Homo sapiens: one gene and its partners. The protein of the gene in region 1 interacts with the protein of each later gene in a biochemical or structural test. Each region holds a gene or a part of one and is shown on either strand. Other genes may lie near its edges. The genes, in order: CABIN1, BORCS8-MEF2B and CAMK4.

The links.
Region 2: the proteins of CABIN1 (region 1) and BORCS8-MEF2B are reported together in a solved structure, tested with the Homo sapiens proteins (one study listed by BioGRID).
Region 3: of the proteins of CABIN1 (region 1) and CAMK4, one has a biochemical effect on the other in vitro, tested with the Homo sapiens proteins (one study listed by BioGRID).

What each region holds. Positions count from the first base shown.
Region 1 is NC_000022.11:24,159,893-24,170,407, reverse strand, and holds part of CABIN1 (calcineurin-binding protein cabin-1), read right to left. Parts: intron 6,009-10,515; coding exon 5,845-6,008; intron 4,879-5,844; coding exon 4,782-4,878; intron 3,770-4,781; coding exon 3,095-3,769; intron 1,977-3,094; coding exon of another isoform or gene 1,962-1,976; coding exon 1,887-1,961; intron 1-1,886. UniProt on the Homo sapiens protein: May be required for replication-independent chromatin assembly. May serve as a negative regulator of T-cell receptor (TCR) signaling via inhibition of calcineurin. Inhibition of activated calcineurin is dependent on both PKC and calcium signals.
Region 2 is NC_000019.10:19,189,153-19,195,995, forward strand, and holds the start of BORCS8-MEF2B (myocyte-specific enhancer factor 2B), read right to left. Parts: upstream 3,001-6,843; 5' UTR 2,966-3,000; coding exon of another isoform or gene 2,929-2,965; intron 1-2,928. Other genes in the region: BORCS8 (BLOC-1-related complex subunit 8), read right to left, coding at 2,929-2,965; DNA-binding protein RFXANK, read left to right, coding at 4,795-4,981. UniProt on the Homo sapiens protein: Transcriptional activator which binds specifically to the MEF2 element, 5'-YTA[AT](4)TAR-3', found in numerous muscle-specific genes. Activates transcription via this element. May be involved in muscle-specific and/or growth factor-related transcription.
Region 3 is NC_000005.10:111,484,505-111,495,019, forward strand, and holds the end of CAMK4 (calcium/calmodulin-dependent protein kinase type IV), read left to right. Parts: 3' UTR 1-10,382; downstream 10,383-10,515. UniProt on the Homo sapiens protein: Calcium/calmodulin-dependent protein kinase that operates in the calcium-triggered CaMKK-CaMK4 signaling cascade and regulates, mainly by phosphorylation, the activity of several transcription activators, such as CREB1, MEF2D, JUN and RORA, which play pivotal roles in immune response, inflammation, and memory consolidation.

The DNA of each region.
Region 1 (10,515 bases):
TGAGCCTCTAATTATGTCCAGAGCACCCTCCAGGCGGGTTCAGGGCTGCCATGGCAACAAGGACATGCCGTGAGCAAAATGGACACTCCCTGAGGGGCGGGAGCTATGGGCTCTGATGGCAGGAAATGGCCTCCAAGATTGGGCTTAAGGGAGGAGAGAACCAGAGGATGGCAGCTAGCCCCTACAGTGGCATCTTCTCTGGGCCCAGGGTAAGAATCCTAGGTAGGAAACGCAAATCTGCCCACGGCAGATACCAAGGCGCCCCCACCGCACCAGGGTCTGGGAAGCAGGCAGGTAGGTCTGAGGGTCATTAGGGCCTCCTCCCTGCCACTCCCCTCCACAAACTGGGAGGAGACTGCTGGGGCCTGGCCTGGCGTCGCCCAGCAGCAGGCAACCTGAAAGGTAAGGACCTGGGTCCCCTGGCTCTGGCCACCCCCATAACCCAGGCTGTGTCTTCCGAGGTCTCTGACGGAAATCTCTGCTCACCCAGCCCTCAGGGGCCCCAATATGCATGTGCCTCGGCAAAATGGGGTCTGGCCCAGCCCTGGCTCCTGCCAACTCAGTAGCCCTTTCTTCTCACGCTACAGTGTGGGGTTGTGGGGGGGTTTCCTGTGTGGGTCTATCTTTTAAGGACGTCAAAAGCAGAAACAGCCCTCCTATCTCCTGAGTGATCACCACTCCCATGTCCACCTGCTCCACCTGGGCCAGTGGAGGAGGCAGGGGCACCCTGGTGGACCTGGGCCTGGGCCTGCGCCCAGCACTGGGGCCCAGACAGCTGTGCTATGCACTCTGCCTAGCTGGACAATGAAATGGTGGGGACTGCTGGGGGTTGGGGCACTCCCTGTCAAGGACTCTGGCCCTTAGCTGGGGACCAGGCCCACCTACTCCCCACAGCATGCCTCGTCTGGCCCACAGCCTGCTTGGTCAAAGCTGAACCTCGAGGGCTTCCGCAGACGTAATAGCCCAGGCAGGTGGTGGGGGCCTGAGGCTCCATTCCACTGAGAAGGAAGCCCGTCTGGACCCCAAAGGCAGCTACCAGCCCTCTGCTAGGGGACCTGGAACAAAGGGACCTGGGACGAGGCTACCGGGGGCATCGGGACACCCCTGGGGACAAAAGACTGCACCTACTCAAATGGCATGCCACCTACCCTCTGGCTTGGAGGCTTATGTTTTAGACAGGGCACACCTGCTCTCTCTGCCTGCCATGTCTGCCCCTCCCTGCCACATCCTCTTGTTGAATTCTGATCCCAGCCCTCCCACCTCTAGCTTGGGGTCCTCCCAGGAGGGGCCTCCCCAACTCCCTACTCCCTGCCATATCTTGGACCCCGCCCCCCCCTCCCCAGCCCTGGCCTGGACCTTGCACTAACCCCATCTTCCCTACTCAGGAGTGTTGCTGCCTTGCTTCCTCCCTGCTTAATAAACTCCAGGACTCCTGCCTACCCTGTCTTAGGACACCTTGCTCCCTACAAGTCCTCCCCTGGGGCGGTGGGGCGGGGGGCAGTCCCTGTATAGGCTGCATCTCCACCTTCCCCTGCCACCTGGCTCCTAACCAGACTGGCTCTAACATTGCTGCTTCTACTTCTGTTCCAAACGGAATGACCTTCCCAGTTGAGGTCAGCTGGCTAGGGGCCATCCTCCTTGTTACAGAAAAGGTGGCTGAGGTGAGGGGACCCCTCAGCATGTCTGAACTGGGGTCTGGGCCGTCAAGTTCCTGCCCACTATGGCCACGTGCTGGAGGCTCAGCTGCCCCCTGCTCATCTCCCCTCAGCCCAAGCTGACCACAAGAACAGTCCCAAGAGTGGATCTGCTTCTCAGCCTGCATCCTAGGGCCTTGATATGGAGCAGGCTCCGCAAGATGAGGCTGGCACAGGCTAAATTGGGCTTACCTGTCTCTGGGCGGCAGCCCCAAGATGGACCTGGCAGAACTTCACAGCCTGCTCCAGCGCAGCCTCCTCATCCACCTTAACAGGGAGATGCTGGAAGTCAGGGGGCGCAGGCCATTGTGGTTAGCCTCCCCCAGCCCTGTCTGTGTATGTAGCACAGACCAGCCTAGGTAGGGGGCATGCCCTGTGGCTCGGGTGCCCCCCAACACCCCAGACTCTGCTGAATAGCCAGCCGTCCCCACTGCTGTCCGCATCTAGACCCCTACGTCCCAGCTCTTCGTGGGTAGCAGGGGCAGATGCCCATCCATCTCCCAGGTGGGGGTGCCTGCTCAGGTGCCACACCACCAGGTACTGGTGCCAGAATTGGACCCAGCTGTTCCTCTGAGCCCATCTGGCTATACCAAGTTCATTTCTATGGCTGAGTTACTTACATCCTCACAAGCTGAGGCTGGCAGGCAGACTCAAGGGCTCCAACCAAGCCTTCAAATTCAGCTGAGGCTCAGTTGCTAGGGGAAGAGGGGAGTCTTCTGAGCTAGAACCTGCCCTTTAAGTGGGCAGGATGGAGGGCCATGATTAGAGTGGGAGAGGCCTTTCGGAATCCCAGGCCTGATGGTGATAGCCCCATGCTGTGTCAAGTGTGTCTAGGGATTCAGTGCCCAAGGTCCATATGATATGGGGCAGTTGGGGGTAGGATGCATTGCAAACTGACATGATTAGAGGGAATACTGTATGTCAGGGATGGTCATCCCATCTGAACCAGTCACTAAAGTTTTGGAGATTCTTCCTATGGGAATAATTTTAAATGGAGAAAAAGGAAAGTGCTTGATACATTAAAATAAAATGTTTAAAAAAAGAAGGCAAAATGACAAGGGGATCTCTGGTCACTGCAGCCATCTTTAGATGACAGCCACAGAAGTCTTGAAGGAAATGCCCTAAGATGTACCCAGAGGCCCAGCGCAGCGGTGGGAGCAGCGGTCCAGACTCCCCGCGCTGGTTGTGATAAGGTTTCTGTGACGGGCTCTCACTTCCTTCCAGGTTGAATATTGACTTTTTAAAGCTCATTGCAGAAAGTGAACAGCAGGGATGGTGTGGGAACAACACCTAAAACCCGCCCCAAGGGCAGGCCTGGGAGACCCTCCTTGAGGATAGAAAGGCAAGAGTGGGGATGCTGCCAGCAGACTAGTGCCCCCAGGCCTCTGCCTGCCACCCACCTGCTTGATGAGCATGTAGGTCTCCGACATGATCCTCTCCACACGGCCCAGGTCATAGGCCACACCCTTCTGGCCCTGCTGCCACACACGGTAGGCATCCAACAGAAGTGTCTTGCCTGACTCTGTGTCCTCCAGGAGCTTCCTCTTGCGGCTGAGCCGGGAGAGCGGCTCCTCCGGGTGGCCCCCTGCCCTGGTCCCTGTGGTGGTGGCGGGGGCGGGGGCGGGGGCTGGCTGGGCTGGGGTGAGCGGGGTGGGCTGCTGCCGGGCACTGATGCTCAGCTCCTCCAGGGACAGCTCAGTGGGCCGGCTCTCGGGGCCCCGGTCCCTTGCGGGGCGACCTGGCAGCAGGGGTGGTGTCCGCTCCAAGTCTGAGTGGCAAACAGTGGCCTCACTCGTGTCCATGGGCTCAGTGGGCCCTGCCCGTGGGCTCTCTTTATCCTTCCGCTCCCCGCTTTGGTCTGCACTGTCTCCTGCATCCATGGCCACAGGCCGGTGGTTGAGGAGGCCCACTTTGCCTCCTGGCTCGGGCCCTGGCCCTGAGCCATCAGCCAGAGGGGGCTTCTTCGGCTGGGGGAGGCCCTCCTGGCCATCCTCAGGACTGGCCTTGTGTGAGACATCGGTGGTCATCCTGGCTCCGGGGAGGCCACAGACCTTGGGCCCTGGGCGTTCTGACCCCTACAAAGAAACCAAAGGTAAGAAGCTGTGTCGCTGGTGTCTCCACTGCAATGAGTCACCTCTGGGGGCTGGTGAGCCCAACCTGGGCCTCTCCCACCTGACATCTGTGTGGCTCCGGACATCTGCCAGCTGGCCAGGGCTGTGTTTCAGTTATCAGAGAAGGACACTGGGCCCAGAGACCTGCCTGAGAAAGGCCTTCCCTCCTCTGCACCTCTGGCTACCCCACCACACTCTTCCAGGTAGCAAGGGGCTGACGGGACTCTGGAGGTGGCACTGCTCCTGAATAACAGGCCTGGGCTGAGCTGGGGCAGCATTGCCCAGCTCCCCTTTGACTCCATGACGTGAACTCCGGGCAGCTCTGGGCATTTTATGGGAGGGGACCTGCCCAGGGCCACCAAGCATGTTTGCTGCAGAGCCAAGTCTTCCTGGCCCTTAATGCACGAGGCCTGGGGTTGGGGGCTGGCAAGGACTCCTCCCCAACAGCCTCAAGTTGATGCCCTCTACCAAGCCACAGCCAGCCCTACCAGGCATAAGCTTTGGAGGCAGTCCTGGCTCAACTCCCAACAGCCCCACCTCGTAGGCTGGCTGCTTAACCTCCCTGGCCTCCTCCAGGTGCTCAGCTGTGAGAAGGAGGTACTGCTGCACCTGCCTCAAGGCTGAAAAGGGACGATGCACACACATGGTGTTCTCATAGGCCTTGGTCAGCCTGCCAGGGAGAGGGCTTGGGACCCCGCCCTGGGTGGTGCAGCCCTTGGGGAGCTCAGTTTCATGGAGTCACTATGGCTCTTACTAATCACCAAGTGCATCCATGACTCACTGAATTCATGTGCATTCATTACCACGGCTGACCTTCCCTGCCTAGGAAGACAGGATGGGTGCTACCTCACAGATGGGGACCCTTAGGCACATCCTGCCTAAGGGTATGCAAATAGAGGGATCGGGCCCACCACCTGGGAAGGGCTTGGAAGCGTGTTCATGGGCCGTGGAGGAGAGGAGGACACAGGTGGCATACCTCTGCGAGCTCGCTCAGCGTGTCTTCGAGCACCTTCACAGTGAGGATGAAGGCCCGCTGCGCCAGGACCTGGCGGTCAGCATCTCGCAGATACTTCCTGCGGTCATACAGGGGTAGTCAGAGAGGACAGGAGGGCATCTGACACCACATGGCACTGCTGGATGGTGGCCACTGCCCATCCCTGCCTTGAGGATGCCTGTTTGTTCCTCAGTGTTCCACCTAACCACCTGTTTGGGGCTGCTCCCCTAGAAGCTTCCCCTGAGCTCCCTCTATCCAGAGCCAGTAGGCCTCTGACCCGGCACCAGCCTGTTGCCCTTAGGCCCTCTGCAGTGGGCCCACCCTGTGTGCTGTGCTCAGCAGCCTATAGCTGCTCCCTCAGGTCTGGCTCCAGGGTGCCCCAGGCCCCAGCTGGAGGCCCCTGAACTCCTGGCACATCGCCTGGCAAGTGGTAGGTGAGTGAGACAGCCAGAGGGTGAGACAGTGCAGGCATGGGAGGAGGCCCAGTCCAGCTGACGGAGTGAGGCCTCCAGGCCAGGCCCATCTACATCTGAGCTGCGTCTCTTCCAGGATCCCCCCAACACCCCCTGTAAATGGCAGCTGTAACAGATGGCTCTGTTATCTGTCCTGCCCTTTCTGGCGGAGAGCTCCCTGTTTACCACTGAGGCCCAGGCACCCCTGTCGCTCACCCCACTGTTACTGGCCTTTGTCTGGGGAACCACAGCTATCTTCTGAACATCTGTTTTCCCTACAACCTGACAGCACCCCGAGAGCCCTGAGTTGGGGGAAGCAGGAGGAAAGGAAAGGCTGGGTAGTCCAGAGTCTCAACGTGGAACCAGGATCAGTGGGGACAGGCTGTGTCTGCCCTAGGGTGCCTGGGGGTGGGAAGTGTTGTTTAGGTTCTAGACACTGGGACAGAGAGGCCCCCAAGGAGAATGAAGAGCTGGTCCAGGCTCCCAGCCAGTGGTCCTCACAGCTGGGCCAGAGCAGTGGAGAGGCTTCCTGGGGTGTGTGTGCCCCTGACCCACACAGCATGCCAGGCTGTGTCCAGGGTGGCTGCACTCACTTGCCCTGGTCTGGGGTCCGCTGAAGCATGGAGGACACCTTCAGCAGGGTGCTGTGGTCCCGCAGCTGGGCCAGCACCTTGAGCAGCAGCACGATGGAGCGGTTCATGTGCCAGGCAAAGCTGCCCGGCCGGTCAATCTCGTCCACGGGGATCCGCCAGATGCCCTGTGGGATGGATGGCACAGGTGTGTGAGGGGGGTGGTTGTGGCAGGAGCCTCGGGGACACCCTGTCTGGTATCCCCTGGAAACTGCCACAGTGCCAAAGGGGACACTGCCCAGCCAGGGGCTTCTTGGACCCCTCTCACTGTCCCAAGGAGACAGAAGTGTATCCCCACCCCCTTCCTTCTCATGAGTGGCAGCAAATGACAGACAGACCCACTGCTCTGCAGCCTCCTCTTTTGTATGGCTGCATCTCATATGTTTGCTGGACCTGTCCCCTATGGGATGCACTCAGGTGGGGCCTGATCAAACGTGAGGACAGACAGTGAGAGGCCCAGTGTGTACACCTCCCTGCACAGGTGCTTACCCAGCCACCAGACCATTTGTTAGAGGTGGAACTGCTGAGTCAAAGCAGGCTGCAGGGAAGCTCTGGCTAGGCTCTGCCCTCACCCACTCTCTCCAGCAGTGCCCAGAGAATCATCTGCAGCTCCTGGGATGCCTGGGGTCCCCCTCCCTCTTCCCACTTCTTGCCATCCTACCCCACTCCTCTTTGAAGGCTTAACCAGGGCAAAGTTGACTTTGGGGAGCACCCCCCATTATCTCCCTTGGTCCTTGCTTTACCTGCTGCAGCACTGGGCACCCCCTACCTATCACTAGCTCCAGGGCCTGGTTCCCTGCAGTGTCCTAGTGACCAGCATGGCATCTGACACCTACTCGGGGTCCAGGCAGGGTGTGGGGAAAGCAGGGAGTGAGTGATGAGGAAACAGGCATTAAGGAGGCCCATCTCTGGGGTGGGACCTCAGGGGCCTGGAATAAGTGAACTGGCTCCTAGATGGGTCCCTGCAGCCAACACGCTGAAGAAACTGCTGCCCAGAATGGACCAAGGTTATGAGTGACATTGCTTTCTCCTTGGCATGGGGCCTGGCCCACATCATGCTGCAGTATAGGATTCTGGGGACTTGGGCCCCCAGCTACAGGGACCACTGCAGGATGTCTAGGTGGTACCCCTCTCAGGGCCCTGTCCCTGTGGGTCCTTGCTGATTATCCACAGTATCTGTACACAGGTGTGGGCCCACCCTGCTCTAGCAGCCCTGGGAGGAAAGCCAGGGCACCTCCAGCCCTGAGCTGTTAAGGCCTGAGAGGAGTTTAAAACTCGCAGCCTTGAGACCCTGTGGCCTCTACACTGGCTCCTGTTGTGACATGGAGGGTCCACCTGCAGGCTGGGGGACTATGTGGAGGCCAGCAGCCACCTTCTACTTCCTGGCAGTGCCTGAAAAGGACAAAACCAGGGTACTGAGGCTATCCACATCCAGGGCAGCAAACATCAATGCTGCATCTTCCTACCATGCAGATGTGGATCCTGAAGCAGCTTATGAAAAGACACCTGCTTTCCAACAGACAGGGTCTATCTACAGTAGGCACCAGAATGGGCAGACACTGTCTCCTGGGTCTCCATCCGCTGTGCTGCAGCAGTACGTCCCGCTGAAGACCCTCCCATCCCTGCACCTCCCAGGGCACATAGACACCAACAGACACACCCGTGAGGACGGGTCTAGTTTGCATCACACACACCAGCACAGTTTGGATCCCTATCTCCTTTCCGTTTCCTTTTGTAACATAACACTGCTGATTTCAGAAAGGATGGAAGACCAAACAAATCAGGCAGTGAGTCCATGGAAAATCAGAAGGGAACCATAGACACCGCCGCCCGCTTGGCCACCCCCATGCTATTGTGACTCTCAAAACTTCCCCAGCCAGCCCTGAGAGGCTTGAAAGGCAGCATTTTACATTTGCATGTGCTCTGGTTTCATTCTGGCATCTTGCTTGGCCTTTTTCTGGTAACAGTGTGCTGAAGGGCACGTTTCCCGGGCAGGGTCAGGCCAGCTAGTGTGCCCTTGTTCATCTCTTTACTGTATCTTCATTCACATGCCCCAGTATGGGGGCTCCTATGTTTATTTACCTTGCACTGGGCACTATTCCCAGAAGCCCCTTCTGTTGTGGGCTTGTCCTTTCCCTGCCCCCAGGATTGGCCCCCTTGCCTGCTCGGCCAGGCCTAAGACCCACCACCAGCCATGGGAATTCAGCCAGCAGATGGGCCCCAGGATCCCAGTCAGGCTTCCCCTCCTAATGAGAGCCTTTAGGAATAACCCCTCTTCTCTGTGGCCTGGGGCGGTGTGCAGATGGACATACCTCCCGAACGGTGAGGGGACTTCCTATGGCCATGAGGCTGGCCTCCAGAGAAAGCTGGTCTGAAGAGTGAAGCCACCAGGCAGAGTCACGAGCCAGCAGGGTGGTAGCAAGCCAACTGGCTTTCTGCCTACACCAGGTGGAGCTGGGCTTCTGTGTTTGCAGCAAGAGACCCATGAGAAGGATGATACTGGCAGCCCCAGGATGACCTGGACACAGCGGTTCCCCACAGAGGGGCAGTAGCCACAGCAGCCCTCTCCCTCCACTGTCCCTCTAACACCGGGCCTGTGGAGGGCTATGAAGCTCCTAGAGAACCAAGGTGCTGAGGAGGGTCTCCTGGAGTGGGACAGGTACAAGGGACAGCCCCTGCTTCACCTGGTTTTCCTCACCACGGCCCACACAGGAGGAAGGGGCATGGCCAGGTTCCAACTGCCACAGCAGAAGCCCCACTGCATTCAGCCCAGGGACTCACGTTCGGGCCTCAGGGAGGGTGTGGAGAATGTGCCAGGGGTGAGCTTGGATAAAGCTAAGTCAGGGCCAGAAAAGAAGGGCATAGGCAGCAGTGACCAAGAGGCCTGGCTGAGGGCAGGTGGAGGGAGCCAGCACCAGGCCAACACCCCCACGGCATCTGAGGGAAAGGCAGAGGCAGGATCATAGATGGGCAGGGGCCATAAGTAGCAGCTGAGAGAAGCAGGGTCGCCGCGAGGAGGGTCTCCTCTGGCCCTCTCCTAGTTCTCCCTCAGCCCTGGGTCCCGCTGCTCTGGCCGTACCCCTTGCCTCGCCTCTCCCAGTTCCACAGGCACACTTGCTGTCTTCAGATTTGCCCCACTTGATTCCTGGGCCCTGGTGTCACCAGGGCTGGGTTCCCTGATGGCCACAGTGGCTGGGATAATGCTTGCTTATAGAGTTGAGGGCAGCTGGGGGTGCACACCAATAGCCTCAGAGGACTTAAAGACACTGAGATTGTGCTTGAGGCTTCCCCTCCATGCCAAGCATCTCTTTCCAGGCATCTCAGTCAATCCCCCAACCCTTCAGAACGGCTCTAGGCTCCTCACTGGCAGATGAGGTCACAGAGAGAGATTTTAACAATCTGAATAATTTATGAAGCCCCAGACTCTAAGCTGAGTGCCTGATACAAGTTACCAAACCCTGCCTACAGCCTTAAGACTTTGGTGGTCTTCCCTCTGCTCTTGAGGAAACAGAGCCTCAAACACTGAGTCCCATGGTAGAGTGAGCCTAGGGGTCCACAGAGGGAGGGCATGACTGCTATGATTTGGGAACCCACGAAGACTTTCCTGGGGGAACTGAGAGCTGGTTAAGTGGAGGTGGTAGGATGCTGCCGGGCCAGCCTGTGCTCTTGCCCTGTCCATTTATGAGGGGGCTGGGAAGCAGGGTGAAGTGCCTGGGGGCAGGAGGGCTGTGCAGTCTTGGCAGGTGGCACCACTTCGAGGTGACAAGTGTCCCTGAAGTTATAGAACACTGCTATTCCCGGCCAACAGGCCAAGGCCATGCCCAGGCCCATGGCTCATGGCTCATGCTGTCTCCAGCACACTGTGGTCTCAGGGGAGCTTACTCCTGGAGGGGCAGGGGCTCTCTTTTCTGCCAGACACAGCCTTTCACTCAGCCAGGGCCAACCCGGGGCTCGACAGCCTGATGCCACAAATTCAAACACTGTTCTGATTCTCATTGTAAACCCCACTGCTGGCTGCTGGGTCACTGCTTGGGCCATTTTTAGTGGCACAGCCCAAGGCTGTTCTGAGGCTCCCTGAGCTGAGGGTTCCCAGCTCTATCTGTCACCTTGGCGGACCCCACCTTTCAGTCATGACTCCTTCTAGAGCTTCCTCCACTTCTAGGGCACAGGCAAAGGCTCTTCAGGAAATCAAGTGCCCCTGGAAATTCCAAGGCAAGAAAGAAGGGTAAGCAAGAGGAGCAGGCCAGTCAGAACAGTACTCAGACCCAAGGCACGAGCTTGTCACAGAGTGGACGAGGGTCAGGTGTGGGCTGAGTAGGGACATAGAGATTCATCCTATGTCTACACTGGGAGGGACAACCTGAGTATGTAATCAACTCACCCCTCATTTTCCAGAGAGGGAAACTGAGTTCAGGTGACCTGCCAAGGCTGCCTAGTGATGCAAAGTGGGACAGGACCCAGGGGCCAGACTCGCCCACCTCAAGTCTCTTCCTACACCCCTGCTTAACACTCAGAGGAACAAGAAATTGGCAGCCTCCCTGTTTTACAGATGTAGAAATGGAAGCATGGAGAATGCAGTGATGCCAGTTCACCTCGGTTTTGAAAAGGTGCCTCTTAAGACTTGCAAAGGCCCAT
Region 2 (6,843 bases), on another chromosome or scaffold:
AAATCCTCATTACAGGGTCTGTTTCAACAACGGCATTCCCAGCCAGCCAGCAGGGCCCGCCTTTCCTGTCCCATTCTTGGGCAGATCCTGATGGTTCCAGTCTCACCTGTTCTATTATACCACACTGCCCGCACCGGTCCAGGCACAGCGAGGCACGGCCATCTCCTGCCTGGATGCCAGATCCACCTTCTCCCTGGCCTCTCTGCTTCCCCTGCTGCCAACAGTTCAACCTCCATGCAGCACGTGAGGCAAACTCCAAATGAACAAATCATCTATTCCCACCCTTGCTTTAAACTCTTCCATAGCTCCCACCTGCCAGAGAATAAAATCCGCCTTTCTTGCCCTGCATGTTCTGGCTGCTCTTGACCTCCCTGCCTTCCTTGCCCTCCACCCCTGGCTCTTCCTTGGACCTCCCAGCACTGCCCAGAACTTTCTCACTGCCCGAGAGGACAAGGTAGGAGGATCACTTGAGGATAAGAATTTGAGACCAACGCCGGGTGCGGTGGCTCACGCCTGTAATCCCAGCACTTTGGCAGGAGGATGGATTCAGCCTAGGAGTTCAAGACCAGCCTGGGAGACATGGCGAAACCCCACCTCTATAAAAAATTGCAAAAATAAGCTGGTCATGGTGATCTATACCTGTAGTCCCAGCTACTCAGGAGGCTGAGGTGGGAGGACTGCTTGGGTCTGACAAGTGGAGGCTGCAGTGAGCCATGATCATACCACTGCACTCCAGTCTGGGCAAAAGAGTGAGACTCTGTCCCAAAAAAAAAAAAATTAAATGCCCGTATGTGACCAGTTGCTCCTTTATTCATTACAGCAGAGCTCTAAACACTTGGTCACCTCAAGGCCTTTGCACTTGGTATTCCCACCTGGAGACACCATTCCGTCACTGGCTCTCCTTCATCCCTCAGGTCTGCTCAAATGTCACCTCCTGGGCAAGACCCTCCCTGACTACCAAGCTTAAAAGATGACCCCTCCACCTCACGGAGGACCTTGGCAGGCATTTTGTTCCTTTCTCTTAATACCAATTTCAACTGATTAGGTTACATGTTCACAGGAAAAGTTAAAAGCTTGGACTTGGGAGAGCAGAGCTTCTCTGAGCCTCAGCTTCCTCATCCACAAAAAAAGAATAACAGCACCAGCCTCAAAGTTTGCTACAGAGATGAATCCAATGCCATCACCAGGGTGACTGCTCAGGAGAGAGAACCCAGGCGTGTCTGGGAGTCAAAGGAGGCTAACACAAGTCTCTCCATCTCACCACTGTGCCTTGAGTGGCAGAGCCCAGCCTGCCACCTCCAAACTGTGTGACCTCTTACCAGATAGGCCTCCTCGCTTTGAATGTGAGCATAACGGCCAGGGGCGGTGGCCCACGCCTGTAATTCCAGAACTTTGGGAGGCCGAAGCGGGAGGATCACCTGAGGTTGGGAGTTCGACACCAGCCTGACCAACGTGGAGAAACCCCGTTTCTACTGAAAATACAAAATTAGCCAGGCATGGTGGTGCATGCCTGTAATCCCAGCTATTCGGGAGGCTGAGGCAGGAGAAACACTTGAACCCGGGAGGCGGAGGTTGCCGTGAGCCATGATCACGCCATTGCACTCCAGCCTTGGCAACAAGAGCAAAACTCCGTCTCAAATAAAAAAAAAGAAGAAGAAAGGTGAGCATAACAGACAAGGCACGGTGGCTCATGCCTCATACTCATGCCCTCCGTTATCCATGGTTCCCGAATCTGTGGATTCAACCAACCGTGGATGGAAAATAGGAAAAAAAAAATTCCACAAAGTTTCAAAAAGCAAAACTTCAATCTGCCCTACACGAAGCACTTCTTTGAATCCATGTGAATGAAGTGATGTGTAGGCCTGTATTATGTATTCTAGATGTGAGTAATCTAGGGTGATTTAAAGTATAGGGGATTAGCTGGGTGCAGTGGTTCACACCTGTAATCCCAGCACTTTGGGAGGCCAAGGTGGGTGGATCACTCGAGGTCAGGAGTTCGAGACTAGCCTGAGCAACAAGGTGAAACCCCGTCTCTACTAAAAATACAAAAAAATTAGCTGGGCATGGGGGTGTGTGCCTGTAATCCTAGCTACTCAGGGGGCTGAGGTTGCAGTGAGCTGAGATCCCCCCACGGCACTCCAGCCTGGGTGACAGAGCGAGACTCCGTCAAAAAAAAAAAAAATTAAAGAATTAGCCTGATGTGGTGGTGTGCACTTGTAGTCCCAGCTACTGGAGAAGCTGAGGCAAGAGGATCGCCCGCGCCAGAGAGATCGAGGCTACAGTGAGCCATGATCGCGCCACCGCACCCCAGCCTGGGCGACAGTGTGATACCTTGTCTCAAAAAAAAAAAAAAAAAAGGAAACAAGACGCACAGCGATTACTACGCCCCGGGGATTCTTCCAATGCATTACAAATATCAGGTTGTTGAGTTTTTTTTTTTTAGACAGGGTCTCACTTGTCACCCAGGCTGGGGGTGCAGTGGCACGACCGTAGCCCACTGCAGTGCAGCCTTGACCTCCCGGGCTCAAGCAATCCTCCCACCTTAGCCGCCCAAGTAGCTGGGACCACAGGCGTGCGCCACCACGCCCGGCTAATTTTTGTATTTTTTTAGAGACGAGATCTCACTATGTCACCTAGGCTGGTCTCGGGCTCAAGCGATCCTCCCGCCTAGGCCTCCCAAAGTGCTGGGATTACAAAGCCACCACTCCCAGCCTCAGCTACTGAATTCTTGAAACAATCCTGGGGGGACCGGTAATTAAAGCAGACACGGAGCCTTTCTACAGGTTTCAAAACTAGTCAGCGGCAGAGCTGGGATTGGACGGCAGTTCAATCACTGCTCCTCGCACGGTCCCTCCGCGCCCGGCCTTTGTCAGGCCGCCCCTCCACAAGTTACCGGCCCCCTCTGTCCCGCCCGCAGGCCCGCACCACCTTTCTTCCCCTTGAGCTGCATCTCCGGCTCCTCCATAGCGACCGCGGCCGAGCGAACCGGGAAACGGCACCGGAAGCCCGGAGGTTGGGACGCCCGCCTAAGCCTTCCCTGCTGAAACCGGACGCCGCACGGCTCCTGTTCCGGTGTCAGAGGGCCCGCCCTCCCCGCTCCTCAGTCTTTGCGGACAAGAAAGGGGCTGTGTGAGACGCAGGGAAGGAGGCACACCCGGGGGTGGCGCAGTGAGGAGGGGGCGCGACGGCCAGGAGGCTGGTGGAGCGACACCCAGGCAGGAGAGGGGGAAGAACTCTCTCCCTTTCTGAACCCCCTTTTCCTTGAGAGACGAGTTGGGGGAGTCCTCCACGCATTACCCACTCGGGCCGCAAAAACTCCCTTCTTTAGCCCTCTGCCCCCGCCCTTGCTTATAAGCCTTTGAGACCGCAGAAGGGACCTTGTTGTGGAACGGGACGGCCAAGGTACGCTGCCCCTTTAAGTTCCAGACGCCCCGCGTACTTCCCCTACTTCTTCTTCTTGAGATAGCCCCGCCCATCTACCCGAAGCCGGAGCCAATTGGCTCCCTCTGGAAAAATCTGTGGGCAGGGTAAAGGTGAGCGGGCGCAGGCGTAGTGAAATTCTCAGAGCCCTTTAGGCCCCGCCCATTCCCTCCGAGTCGGTGAGGAGGGGAAAAGAAGGCGCAGGCGCAACTGCCCTCCCAGGACCCCAGCGGAACCCACGCCCTCCCCTAAGTCTTAAAGGGCCAGAGGCAGCACTTACTGCCCGGGCCCTTCCTCACTTTTGGGGGGCGGGGGTGCGCAAGCGCAGTGGGGGAGCTCTGGGGTGGGGGTAGCGGTCGAGTATCAAGTTGCTTTCTGTCCCGGCAGAGGAAGCCAGATCGCTGAGGGTCCGGTCTCCAGTTTGCCTCCTGCTATATCCATTGGAAGAGAAAAGTTTGTGACTTGGGCCCCCAAGTTTTGAGAGAACTGGGCTTTCGGCGCGGGGGGACAGAGGAGGCTCGTGGGGAGGTGAGTGGACCTCCTGGATCGATTTAGGAGGCTCGGGTGGGACTGGGACCAATCGCACCTTTGTTGAGCCGTCACTCATTATGGGGAGCCCCTCCCAACAACCATAGCGAATATTTATTGAGCTCCACGCTTAGCAGATCCCCCGATAAGCTATGTACAGACATAATTCGTTGTAGGTCTCATTTCCACATTTTGTCGTGGAGGAAACTGAGGCTCAAAGGTTAAGTCACGTGCCCAAGTTCTCACGGCCTATAAATTGAGGGATTCGAACCCAGACAGCTGACCCCAGAGCCCCGGCTTTTTTTTCCTTTCTTTTTTTTTTTTTTTTTTTTTTTTGAGACAGAGTCTTGCTCTGTCGCCCCAGCTACAGTGCAGTGGTGCGATCTCTGCTCACCGCAACCTCCACCTCCCGAGTTCAAGCAATTCTGCCTCAGCCTCCCGAGTAGCTGGGATCACAGGCGCCCGCCACCGCGCTTGGCTAATTTTTGTATTTTTAGTACAGATGGGGTTTCACCATGGTGGCCAGCCTGGTCTCGAACTCCTGACCTCATGATCCACCCTCCTCGGCCTCCCAAAGTGCTGGGATTACAGCCGTGAGCCACTGTGCCCTGCCAGAGCCCAGGCTCTTAAACATTGCACATTGTAGGTGCTTTGGTGGTGGGGAATGGTAGACCTCGAAAGCAGTTGGACTCTGGTTTTCATTTCCCTGGCTCTGGTAATTAACCTGGACCTCAGTTTACCCACCCTCACAGTGCAAGGCTAGGTATGCAGTCGGTGCCTACTTTATTATAACTGTTGATAATTATTGTCATCTCTCCCCTTCTGACACCTCCGCCAGCTTTCCCCATGGAGCTTACCCAGCCTGCAGAAGACCTCATCCAGACCCAGCAGACCCCTGCCTCAGAACTTGGGGACCCTGAAGACCCCGGAGAGGAGGCTGCAGATGGCTCAGACACTGTGGTCCTCAGTCTCTTTCCCTGCACCCCTGAGCCTGTGAATCCTGAACCGGATGCCAGTGTTTCCTCTCCACAGGGTAGGATACCTCCTCTGGGATTAGCCCTCTGGGATTCCATGATGATGGAATGTCAGGCCTCACATGGAACCTGTGTCTTGCTTTCGTTTTTGTTTTGTTTTGTTTTGTTGTTTTTTGAGATGGAGTTTTGCTCTTGTTGCCCATGCTGGAGTGCAATGGCGTGATCTCAGCTCACTGCAACCTCTGCCTCCTGGGTTCAACTGATTCTCCTGTCTCAGCCTCCTGAGTAGCTGGGATTACAGGCTTCCGCCACTACGCCCAGCTAATTTTTTGGGTATTTTTAGTAGAGACGGGGTTTCACCATGTTGGCCAGGCTGGTCTTGAACTCCTGACCTCAGGTGATCCGCCCACCTCGGCCTCCCAAAGTGCTGGGATTACAGGCATGAGCCACTGTGCCCGGCCTGTTTTTGTTTTTTGATACAGGGTCTCGCTCTGTTACTAAGGCTGGAGTGCAGTGATGCAATCATAGTTCACTGCAGCCTCAACTTCCTGGGCTGAAGCCATCACTCAGCCTCCCTAGGAGCTGGGACTATAGGCATGCAACCACACCTGGCTAATTTTTTTTTTTTTTTTGGGAGGCTGGTCTCCACCTCCTGGGCTCAAGTGATCTGCAGGCCTCCACTTCCGAAAGTGCTGGGATTACAGGTGTGAGCCACAGTGCCCGGCCCTTCACACCTGTTTTTAACTCTTTGAGGGTAGATAGCTAGGAGTGAAATTACTGGGTCAGATGGTCATCCTGTTTTACTTACTGAGGAACTGAGGATTTATTTTTGATTGGAGTCCAAGAATATGCCTAATTTAGTTCCCTCCCACGACCTTTGTTGCTGCCACTCCTGTCTGGAATGCTCTTCCTACACTTCTTCCTATAGCTGACTCCCCTCCCCTCCCTCCCTTCCCGCCTCCGTTTTTTTTTTCTTTCTTTCTTTCTTTTTTTGAGATGGAGTCTCGCTCTGTCGCCCAGGCTGGAGTGCATGGAGTGCAGTGGCGCAATCTTGGCTCACTGCAAGCTCCACCTCCCGTGTTCACGCCATTCTCCTGCTTCAGCCTCCCGAGTAGCTGGGACTACAGTCCGTTTTTTTTTTTTTTTTTAAATGGAGGTTTGCTTTTGTTGCCCAGGCTCCCTCCCCTCCCCTCGCCTCCCCTCCCCTCCTTTCCCCTCTCCCCACTCTCGAGACGCCTCCTGGATCCCCTCTCTTCTTGAGACAGAATCTTGCTCTGTTGTCCAGGGTGGAGTGCAGTGGCACTATCTTGACTCACTGCAACTCCCTCTCCTGGGTTAAGGTGATTCTCCTGCCTCAGCCTCCCAAGTAGCTGGCATGCACCACCACATCCAGCTAATTTTTGTGTTTTTAGTAGAGATGGAGTTTTGCCATGTTGCCCAGGCTGGTCTCGAACTCCTGACCTCAGGTGATTGCCCGCCTCGGCCTCCCAAAGTGCTGGGATTACAGGCGTGAGCCACCGCGCCCAGTCCCTGTAGCGGATTTCTTTGACTTCCTAAGATCTCGGTGGTGTCACCTTGGGGAGGCCCTCCTGTTACCACCTTGTCTAAGAAGGACTTATTCCTTGTGCTCCGTTCTTTTCATCCTCTTCTACCTGCTTTTAAATTTTTTTTTTTTTTTTTTTTTTTGAGATGGAGTCTCACTCTTGTTGCCCAGGCTGGAGTGCAGTGGCGTGATCTCTCTCACTGCAACCTCCACCTCCTGGATTCAAGCGATTCTCCTGCCTCAGCCTCCCGAGTAGCTGGGATTACAGGCATCTGCCACCATGCATGGCTAATTTTGTGTTTTTAGTAGAGGTGGAATTTCACCATGTTAGTCAGGCTGGTCTCAAACTCCTGACCTCAGGTGATCCACCCACCTCAG
Region 3 (10,515 bases), on another chromosome or scaffold:
TTATGTACTTTGTCCTTCAGCAAGAAAGGTGTGGAAGCATGATATGTACTATAGTGATTCTGTTTTTGAGGTGCAAAAAACATACATATATACCAGTTGGTAATTCTAACTTCAATGCATGTGACTGCTTTATGAAAATAATAGTGTCTTCTATGGCATGTAATGGATACCTAATACCGATGAGTTAAATCTTGCAAGTTAACACAACGTAACACTTAAAAGCATACATTTTCAGCAACCAGTGGCACATATTTGAAGTGAATAGTAGCAAATTGTTTTTGCTTTGAAAATCTAGCCATCCTACATCCTTTGGATTTCTTCACAAGGCAGTAATTCCTTTGAACTACTGCTTAGCTAATACTAGGTAGTGCTAAAAGACATGTTCCCATAACTTTTACAACATTTTACTTTTTATCATTGATGTGTTCAAACTGTTTACAAGGAGATGCTTATAGATGATAGTTGTACATATGTGCAAAAAAAAATCCACTTGCAATGGTAAGAAATTGAAGTATCCTTAAAGGCCATGAAGCCATATGTCCCTAAAGCCTGTGTGGAGAATGCTTTATTTTATTCTTATTTATATACACTATATTAATAATAACCAAAATGTTCTAAGATTCTGCCATTTTACAACCCTGGAGGAAGTAATTTACAAACTCACGCTGAGTTCCATTCTTTCCTTCACCTGCTCTCCAATAAGATGACTTTCTGATAGACAAAGCTTAGGGTGTAATAAACAGGGAAGAAAAGAAGGTAAGACTGTACTTAAACTGATGAAGATAAGATTGATTCCTTTTCATTTTCCAGATAAAATTGTATTTACTCATGAATTTATACAACTTTACAGATAAGAACATTTTAATGGATAAACTCTATAATTACCAAGTTGCAAATATTTAGAAAATTCTATTTCACAGGTTAGTGCCAAAATGTCTTCATAGAGTAGGAATAATATTCCATTTTAAGATTATTCATTATTGACTTTAATAGAGTAAGAAAACATTATTGTTTATCAAAGCTCTTTTTTTATCCAATTGATGGTTATCTACACATATCACTTATAAACTAAAGTTATTTATGAAAAGCTAGTATGTCTTTTTCTCGTATTTGGAATGAAAGTACCCACATTTTACAATGTAGTGTTGAGAATGTGGCTGCCAATAAATTTAGCACAATGCAATTTATTTACCTTAAAAAACAAACAAAAACAAAAATAAAGAAAAATACTGATTTCAAATCAGACTCTTAAAAAGCTGGAACATTAGACCTGATATTTTATTATGATTTTTCCCAGAATAAGTTTAATTTCTCTTTGACTTTCATAGAAACACTTTCCCCTTATAGAAATTGCACTATCTCCAATTTATTTCTAGTTTGAGTTGAAATGAATATTTTATCAGATTAATTATGTGTCACATTTTTGGTGGGTTTTCTCAATTTTAAAAAAGAATTCATTTTAAAAAATAATTATTTTCAGAGACCAAATAAAGACAATAAAAATGACTATCACATAAAAATCCTTGTTAAAAAAGAGATCTTAAATTATGTTGGCTCTCCCTCAAAACTATTAAATTAGAAAACGAAACTAAAGCTCCAGTTTGTAGAGGCTGTTGGACCTCAGTAGACATTCTTCTTTTCAATCACAAATCTCTCTCTACTACTGTTCTCATGGGAAGAAAACAAGGTAGGACTTCTTATCTTTCATAGTTTAAGAATCTGACAGGTCACTGATATGGAGCCCCTGAAGAAGCACATCATCTGGGCTCAGAAGATTATTTTTTGTTTTGTTTTATTTGTACTATCTAGTAGAGAGCACTTTTCTTATTCCCTCTTTCCTTCCTTCCTCATTTAATTATTCCCTCTCAGAATTCCCATGTTGTCCATTATAAGGGGCTCGCTATTTTTAACCTTTAAGAATGTCTTCTTTGTTAAGCATTAAGATTTCCATTTAAGAGGATCAATTTCCTGTTGTACTTTTTACCATGAGACTGAAACACACACACACACACACACACACACACACACACACACACACGTGTTGGAAGAGCAAAGAGAGGGAAGGGGGTCTTTTTAGAAAGTGGCACTTGGCGCTTAGCTGAAAGATCAGAACACATCATTCCTCCCTGCCCACCCCCATATTGTTCCAAGGGCAGTTGTTACATTATTTCAACACTAGAGTAGGGCGGACTGCATTGTTTGGCCCTGAGAACTATAGAAACAACGTTGCAAATACCATGCCCAATGTGTATTTTAGAATTTACTCATTTAAATGAGTGCATATTACCATTCCTCCATGTGAGTACTCGAGTTGATAATTCCCTCTATCTTTTTAAACCCATAAACTACATTTTTAAAAAAATCAATGGGAGTTTTAAATTTTGACTCATGTTAAAGATAAGATTCTGATAATGACTATATAGTGACTAATTTCATTGTTTCAGTAGGAAACAAATCAAACTTTCAAAAATGTTGGTCATTTCAGTCAAATTATTCAAAGATTTCATATACATACATCCTAAGTTAGGATAATTATGTTAACATTTTTGAAAGAACAGCCAATGTTTATATTGCTTGTTAAAATGGAATGTATTGTCTATCTCAAAGATTACTTAGCTAAATAATAGTAGACAAATGGAGATTTAATTTCACAAAATACTTCATAACATCACTCCTAATTGGCAATATAGTCACAAAGCAAAAGAATTCAAATTTCAGCAAACAATAAATTACATTTTACATTTTAGAGCTAACACTTATCACATTACATTATGGGTTTTTATTTTGAGATAAGTTCAGCTACATAGCATAAACTAGGTTTTTTTTTATAACCATGAAGGACAGTCTTGAATTATTTCCCCCATTAACAAAGTCTAATTGGAATCCAGTATTTTTTCTCAAACTGTAATTTCACTTGTCCCAGGACACATAAATAGGTAAAAATTAGAATAATATCGTGGTAGAAGTTAATTGTCCAGAACAAGTGCATTATATAAATATAATGCAAGCACATGTCATTTAAGATTTTCTATTAGTCACATTTTAAGAAAAATAGATGAAAGTATAGTATTTTTAATCCAATTCATCCAAATTATTCTATCGATATATAGTCAATATTAAAATTTAATGTGATATTTTGAATTCTTTATTTTTATACTGTTTTCAAAATCAAGAGTGTATGTTAGGCCTTTGGGACATCAAGTGCTCAATAGTCACATGTGGCTAGTGGCTACCATATTAGACAGCACTAGTCTAGAGTACTTTTTATTTTAAGCAAAGTGACACTTGAAGTTCTATGCTTAGATTTAAGTGGCCTCAGTTTTCACATTGAGGAGCTGGTGGGAGGCCACAAAGAAAGTGTTTCAGAAATGTTACACACTGAGTAAAAGCTTATTGACCACTCCTGCCCATTCATTTACTTCAGAGGAGAAATGATTCCTAACATGACTTCAAAGAACGGGCATTACTAAATTATCTACTGACCAATCCCTCTGATTCCTGATGGGCCCTGGAGTCTTGACTACAGCCTAGAGTCTCCTGAGTACTGCCATGATGCCAATAGCATTCTTGCTTACCAAAATCTACTCTCAGCCAACTATGTGTCTTCATTCAGGAAGAACTGCACATAGAATCTGATTTTGAGGCCTGGATTAAGCTTCATGCCATCCTTGTATCACAGGCAATATGTCTTTCTGGAAATCTAATGAACCATACCAAATCTGCATGATGAAGATTGTGTAATGATGGTGATATCATGCCAGTTATCCTCAAAGTGGGAATATGACCATTAGCTGGCATTTTTTAAGATTTCCTTAGAAGGGTTTAATCAACACTGCCATTACACATGGATTTAACAAAAGACTTTTGAAAATTTTTTACATACTGATTTTAGAATAATCCTCAAGGTTCTATAGTCATTTTTAGTGGAAGACTTAAAAAGAAAGGAACAATTTTTACTGTGACTTCAATTTCATAGTATTTTAAACATATTTTGTAATTCAGAATGTTTAGCAATCCCTATGTCCTGTTTCACATGCATGGTAACTGATGGTGGGTTGCCTACAGGCTGAAGATTTGGAGAGAGCCATTTTGTTTCATAAATCAGTTTTTATTGCACAGAAGCAGCTGGTTGTATTTCAAGTTGGAAAAAGAAAAGTAAATGCCAGAAAAGGCAAAGGATAAACTTAGTAAGCCATTTATTTTGTTTTAGAATTGTTTTTGCAAAGCAAATTTTTTTAAAAAAAGGTCAACAAAGTGAATCAGCACTAGCATTTTCTTGATGGTTGACTCAATGTATAATTAACAAATATACATAGCAGAGTCAATTAATCATAGTGCCATTATGTCACTTATTTGTCATTGCAAAGTATTCAGTCATGTTGTCTAGATTTACTTTAGATGGTGCAAAATTTCCAGATAGTAACCTATGTAAAAGGATTTGTAATTTCCTTGTAATTCCTGCCTATTAGTCCATATTCTGATTTCCTTATGTTCATCACTGATATGTTCCTGATCAGGGTCATTGCTAGTAGTTGAGCATTTACTGGTTGAACATTGTTTAATGGTTAGATGTTATGTGTGTCTGCATTTAAAAAAATTGTGTACATGTTATTTCACTATTGGTATTACAATATTCATAACCACATGATAAACAGAAATGTACCCAATAATTTCCTATAAAATTTTTCAAAGTCCTTTTATTCCCCTGACACACTCAGGGTGAATTTTTGTCTCCTTGGCAAATAAGAAAAAAAAGGAGAGAGACCACTGGAGAGATATCAGCAAACCACCCACAGTAACCAAGTTCAGTATTTCCTCTTTCTATATTTTGACCAATATATTAAGAGCAAATTTTGTCATTATTACTCCTTGTGGCTATTACCTGAGATCAGATAATATAATCTCAGCTCATAAAGCTTGGCCATGTCTATACTTATCTTGGAGAGCAATAACAAACTTGATTAATTTGTTTGGTTATTTAAAATTCCAACTTTCATAAATGCTCTGTGATGTACTCAAGACGATTGGGTTGTGTGATACTAACTTCCTTCAAGAACTCAGTCTGTTCCCTGTTGTCTGGTTCAGAGGTCCACCAGGGCAAAATAGAAGCCTTGCCGAGAAAGTGAACTGTCTTACTCCTTCAAAGGAATCAGATGTTGCTCTAGAGAAGACTCCAGGCATCTACCTGGTTGAGCTCAAATGAGGCAAGTGGGAGAAAACCTCTTCTCATCCTCTGATTGAAAGTGATACAATTTGAATATTGGTATATTGTCATTGGTCAGTAATGGAAAAATGAGATTCCACCAGTGGGTTACTCTTTTCTTGTCTTGGTTTGCTATGCCTTATCCCAGATCAGTGTTTTGTTCCATCCCTATGGTCATCTCTAAAGCCCTGACAGGAGCATCCCAGACTGGAGAAATGCAGCGTATCTGTGGCCCAGAATTTTGTTTGATACTCTAAACAGCAATGCAAAGACTGCAAAATCACACTATTCTAAACAGTTGTTTTCAGCTCATTTTGAAGATTGACCTGGAAAACATATAGATACAGAATATATACATTTAATCGTTGCTTGTGATTCATTGTGTCAAAATAACATTTAATTTTCACTCTGATTAATCTTTATTTTCCATTTAAAAGATTATTTCAGGCTACTTAAATACAAGACCTTGCATTCTAATTTTTGAAAGCGGTTGTTTTCCCTGAGCTCTCTCTCAACTTTGACAGTTTGTGAATGATAAAAAGTTACTAGGTTTGTCCTTTCCTTGATAGATGTAGAGCAGTTCATCTGTTTTGTAAAGGTACAGTTAAGCATAACTATAGGCTGGGCGTGATAGTTCATGCCTGTAATCCCAACACTTTGGGAGGCCGAGGTTGGCAGATCACCTGAGGTCAGGAGTTTGAGACCAGCCTGGCCAACGTGGTGAAACCCCTAATACAAAAATTAGCTGGGCATGGTGGCACGCTCCTGTAATCTCAGCTACTCAGGAGGCTGAGGCAGGAGAATCTCTTGAACCCGGGAGGCAGAGGTTGCAGTGAGCCAAGATCATGCCACTGCACTCCAGCCTGGACAACAAGAGCGAAACTCCGTCAAAAAAAAATATATATATATGACCATAAATTGAAAACTATCATCTCATACTGCCTCCTTTTAACCTGACCTATTTTATATACCTACAATACAGTTAATATGCAGCAGCGTAGAGAACAAATAGCATATTCATAATTTGTAATTTTGTTTTTCTTTTTACGGCACCCTTAAGTCTCAGTAATATTTTAAAAGTCCTCTATAAGCCAAAAGAACGTTGTAACATATCCATTTATTAAGGAGTTAGGCCTAAACATAGTAATAGTAGTCCATTCCATGTCCAACAGATGTTGCTGTGTTTCTTTCAACATTTTTCAATGTCTTGTGAGTTTAGTGAGTGGGTACAGCTGAGTTGGGGTTTAGGTGATTTCTTATGCCCAATGAACTAAAGGTATCAGTAAAAGATTATTAGTAAACAAATTAGTTATTTATGCTCTTACTTGAATGTCAGTCATTCATTTTATCTCTCGTCTTTGAGATACACACATTAAAACTTATGTGCATATTTTTTTAAAGAGTAATTTCCACATAATTCCCCAAGAACTGAACTCAAATCTCCAAAAATTTTTCAGAACTCAAGCAACCAATGATTCACAGAGCAAATCTACCAAAGCCCCATTTTTATTGGAACACAGGCATGCTCATTTATGTACATATTGTTTGTGGCTGCTTTTATGTTGTCAAGGCAGAGTTGAGTACTTTCAACAGAGACCATATGGACTGCAAAGCCTAAAATGTGTATCTGGACCCTTACAGTAAAACAATGACCCTGGGTTTTCATGGCACCCCAATGCCTTTTTGGTGACTTGCAGGAATACAGATTCCTATATTCCAGTTTGTTTTTTTTTTTTTCTCCTTAGCTTAAGGTTCGTATTCCCATTTGCTTCTGAGAAAGTTAGGAAAATTTTGTTTTATGTTGCAGATGCTCTCACAACAATAATTGTGCTGGAGATAGATACAACTTAGTGAAATTTTCCTACAGAACTAAAAACGCAAAATTGCATCACTCCTGAAGAAAAGAAATTTAGAGTATGAATTGAGTTGGTTGAGAGTAGAATTAAAAAGATTTCTAGCACTTTGAGCATGTTTTAGAAATTTGATCCTTACATTTAAAATTATGTAAATGACATCTTTCACTGGCATTTGCTCACATTTAAGTCAATCTACAGCTGTTACTTACTAAGCTAAGAAATAAGAAGATCCCTATGGTTCTGAATCTCTCATAATATTCTGAAGTAATTTATATCAATTGAATTTTCATTAATCATTTTAGGAAATATTATGTTTTATTTTGTGGCATTATATGACAATGACTTTCTCAACAATAGCTCAGGGAATACGCAAACAGCCAGCTCTTTTATGTAAGAAAGCCATTTTCTAATCCCCACGCTTTCCTGAGTGTTACGTATTTTATTTCTTTGAAAAGAGAGGGCCTTGAGTAAATGCTTTCGTTTGCTTTCCTTACATATTTAGAAATCCAAGAAGGGCCCTTGTCTTAGTCTATTTCTGTCACAGAGAAATTGTTCATTCCAAAATATCCACCTTAAGGGAAGCTAGTGACCGAGATATGGAGAAAAACATAGGCATTCATGACCTTTGTGTTTCCGTTTGACTTTCAACATCTGTAACCAAAAGGTCACAAATGAAATATTTAGTAGAAAGTGCAATATCAATTTATTAGGAGTACCTAAAATTATAACTCTAAATAATATACAGCAATATTATTGCTCTATTATTACAGCAATCAATAATATAATATAGCCACTAGGATACACTCGCTGTAGAACTCAGAACAAAAGATATCAATCTTCTGCCAGTCCGCATCATTATGTGTAGCAGAGACTTTACTGGAATGAGTGAGGGGAAAGATAACAAAATGTAGATTAGGATTCCACATTCTCCCCTGCCCATCTTCTTGATTGCTCAGTTTGAAGACGATCATTGATGGACAAATACTTTAGAAATGAATGAAGTCAATAGCTAATGTTTCTCCCAGAAACTAAACAACATAGTTTAGGGGATATTAGGCCTACATTCTAATCACATTGTAAGGAAGTGATTTTCTAATTTTGAAGCTTCCCAGGAGCAGCCCCCTCCAGGAACAATTTTCCCTGTGAACTTTCACTGAGAAACTATTATATGCCATGGAGGAGTCAAAGATGAATTAAATCCAATGCTATCCTCCAGGAGTGAGCTTTGTAGTTGGAGAGAAAAGCCAACCTTATAGATACAACCTGTACATATATAACCTATGCTGCATTTAGGCAGATGATAAGCCCTAGGAATGGAAAGAGGGAAAAGCTCCCTTTTGCCAGGAATGATGAAGGAAAGCTTTATGGAAACACAGGCTGTATGTGAAAGATGGGTGAATCTTTGCAGGTAGGGAAGAAGTAGGGGGCATGTCTGGCTGAGAACCGGCCTGATCATAGAGTGGAAAAATGAAAGGCAGAGGTGAAGGAAGAATACTAAATGTGAAAGGCTGAAATACACAGGGAAGTGTTGCCAGTGTGCAACAGAATCTCATCTCGTGCAAAATTGAATTAGACTTCCTTACTCCTTCCTTACTCTGGGTAGGTCCATGTGCAGCCTTTCCTCAGAGCATCTAGCCTGACATACTTGGCTCATCTGCTGTGCTTCTAAGCCAAATAAAAATCATCAAACACATCGAAGATATTTTTGGGAGTCACCAGGTTAAAGCAAAGCCTCAGTCACTGAAAGCAAAAACTGAATTGGCCAGGTCTCCACTGACAAAACAGAGTAAATGATAGTATGACAGATAATTTCAAGTTTTCCAAGACTCCAATTTCTGAAAAATGTCTCATGACTCCAAAAAATCACGTACTTCCTAAAATGTTGCCAGTGGAGGACCGAATCAAGGTTATTGCTGACCTCATTTTTTCAACCTTTTCAGTTATTTGACCTGAATAGGCAATCCCCCAGGATTTCTGATTGAATTCTACCTGAAAGTTTAGATTTTAAAAGACAACCTGTAGGAAGCTAAGTCTCAGGCAACAAAATTTAAAACCATCAGAACTTGTTTCTCCAAACATCAACCTGCTCCTGTCAAGTCCTTTTTCATCTCTCCCTTTTGTCCCTTTACATACTGTTTTGTAAGTTCCTTTTGATATCATTTATTGCAGGCAGTATTTTTACATCCATCTTCAAGAAACTTGGGAGACATTTAGACATTTAGTATGTGTACTTTTAGTTGTCTTGCCTCTTTATTTCAGATAATGCCTGTGATTAGTGAATGGCGGCATTATTCCTGAAGACAAATGAAGGAAGATAGGGAGCAAGATTGACTGTCATTTGAATGATGGAAGAGAAGTAGAATTACTGTGAGGTTACAAAAATCGTAAGTTAGCAGACATTGAGAAAGGAAAACTTCCTACTTGGGCTTTTCAGGCTTATGTGACATTATCTGGATGTGTTTTCTAGTCTTTCCTAAAGGAGAAATTTTTATTCCTGGGTTGCTGAAAGCTTTCTGGACTAAAAGGATATAAGCAGCTCAATAGCAGCATAGAGGATTAGATTAATGGAACAGCACTGCATACAGGAAAGCTACATCTCCAATAGTTTAGGCTGCAAGTCAGTAGCCAAACACAAGAGCATGTAAGATTTGGAGGACAAAGTATAAATATTTTAAGTTTACACAACCAAGATTATAGGCTACCTTCCCAACTTCTAATTTGAAGAGCACTGAAAATGGAGCTGTGAACACTTCATTTTTAAAACCTGACAATATGGTGCTATTGACTACTTAATACAAAGATATATTACAATATTTTTAGGTAAATGTATTAAGTCTGGCCTGGGCATAAATGTACATACAGAAAATGTTTGTAGAGAATTCATCAAAATCATGCCCATTTGCTGTTGTAGAGCTACAGTATTCTTCAATGGTGGTGACTGACCAGTGAGTTTCTACTTCTTACAGATGGGACACAACAGTCATGGGCTGTCTCAGCTGCCCAAAGCCTGAGGCAGACCACATGAGAGCTGTGGCTTCTTCTTGGATTCAGGTTGGATAACCCAATTCAGTAATTAAATATGTAAATTTTGGGGGGGGTTGGGGGGTGTTTTCTAGGAACTTGAAGAGTACGTGACATTATAAAAAATGGGTGTTGGAAGACTAATTGTAGAAATTTGACCTGAGGGCCAATGTTACTTGGTGTAAGTTCACTCAGACAGACATGTCAGAACATGCCCAAAGAAGCCTATATCTTGCTGCTGGGAAATGTAAAGCAGTTGGCATGTAGAATACGATAATAAATCATTTAAGAAACCACCAAAACTTTGCATTCTGTGATTTCAAATGTTACCACAATTCAAGAGAGACACCATGGACATTTTTCTTACACCTGAAATGTGCAGTTGAATCACTCCTTGAGTGTTTTCCCATTCTCTCAGATAAAATTATACTTTGA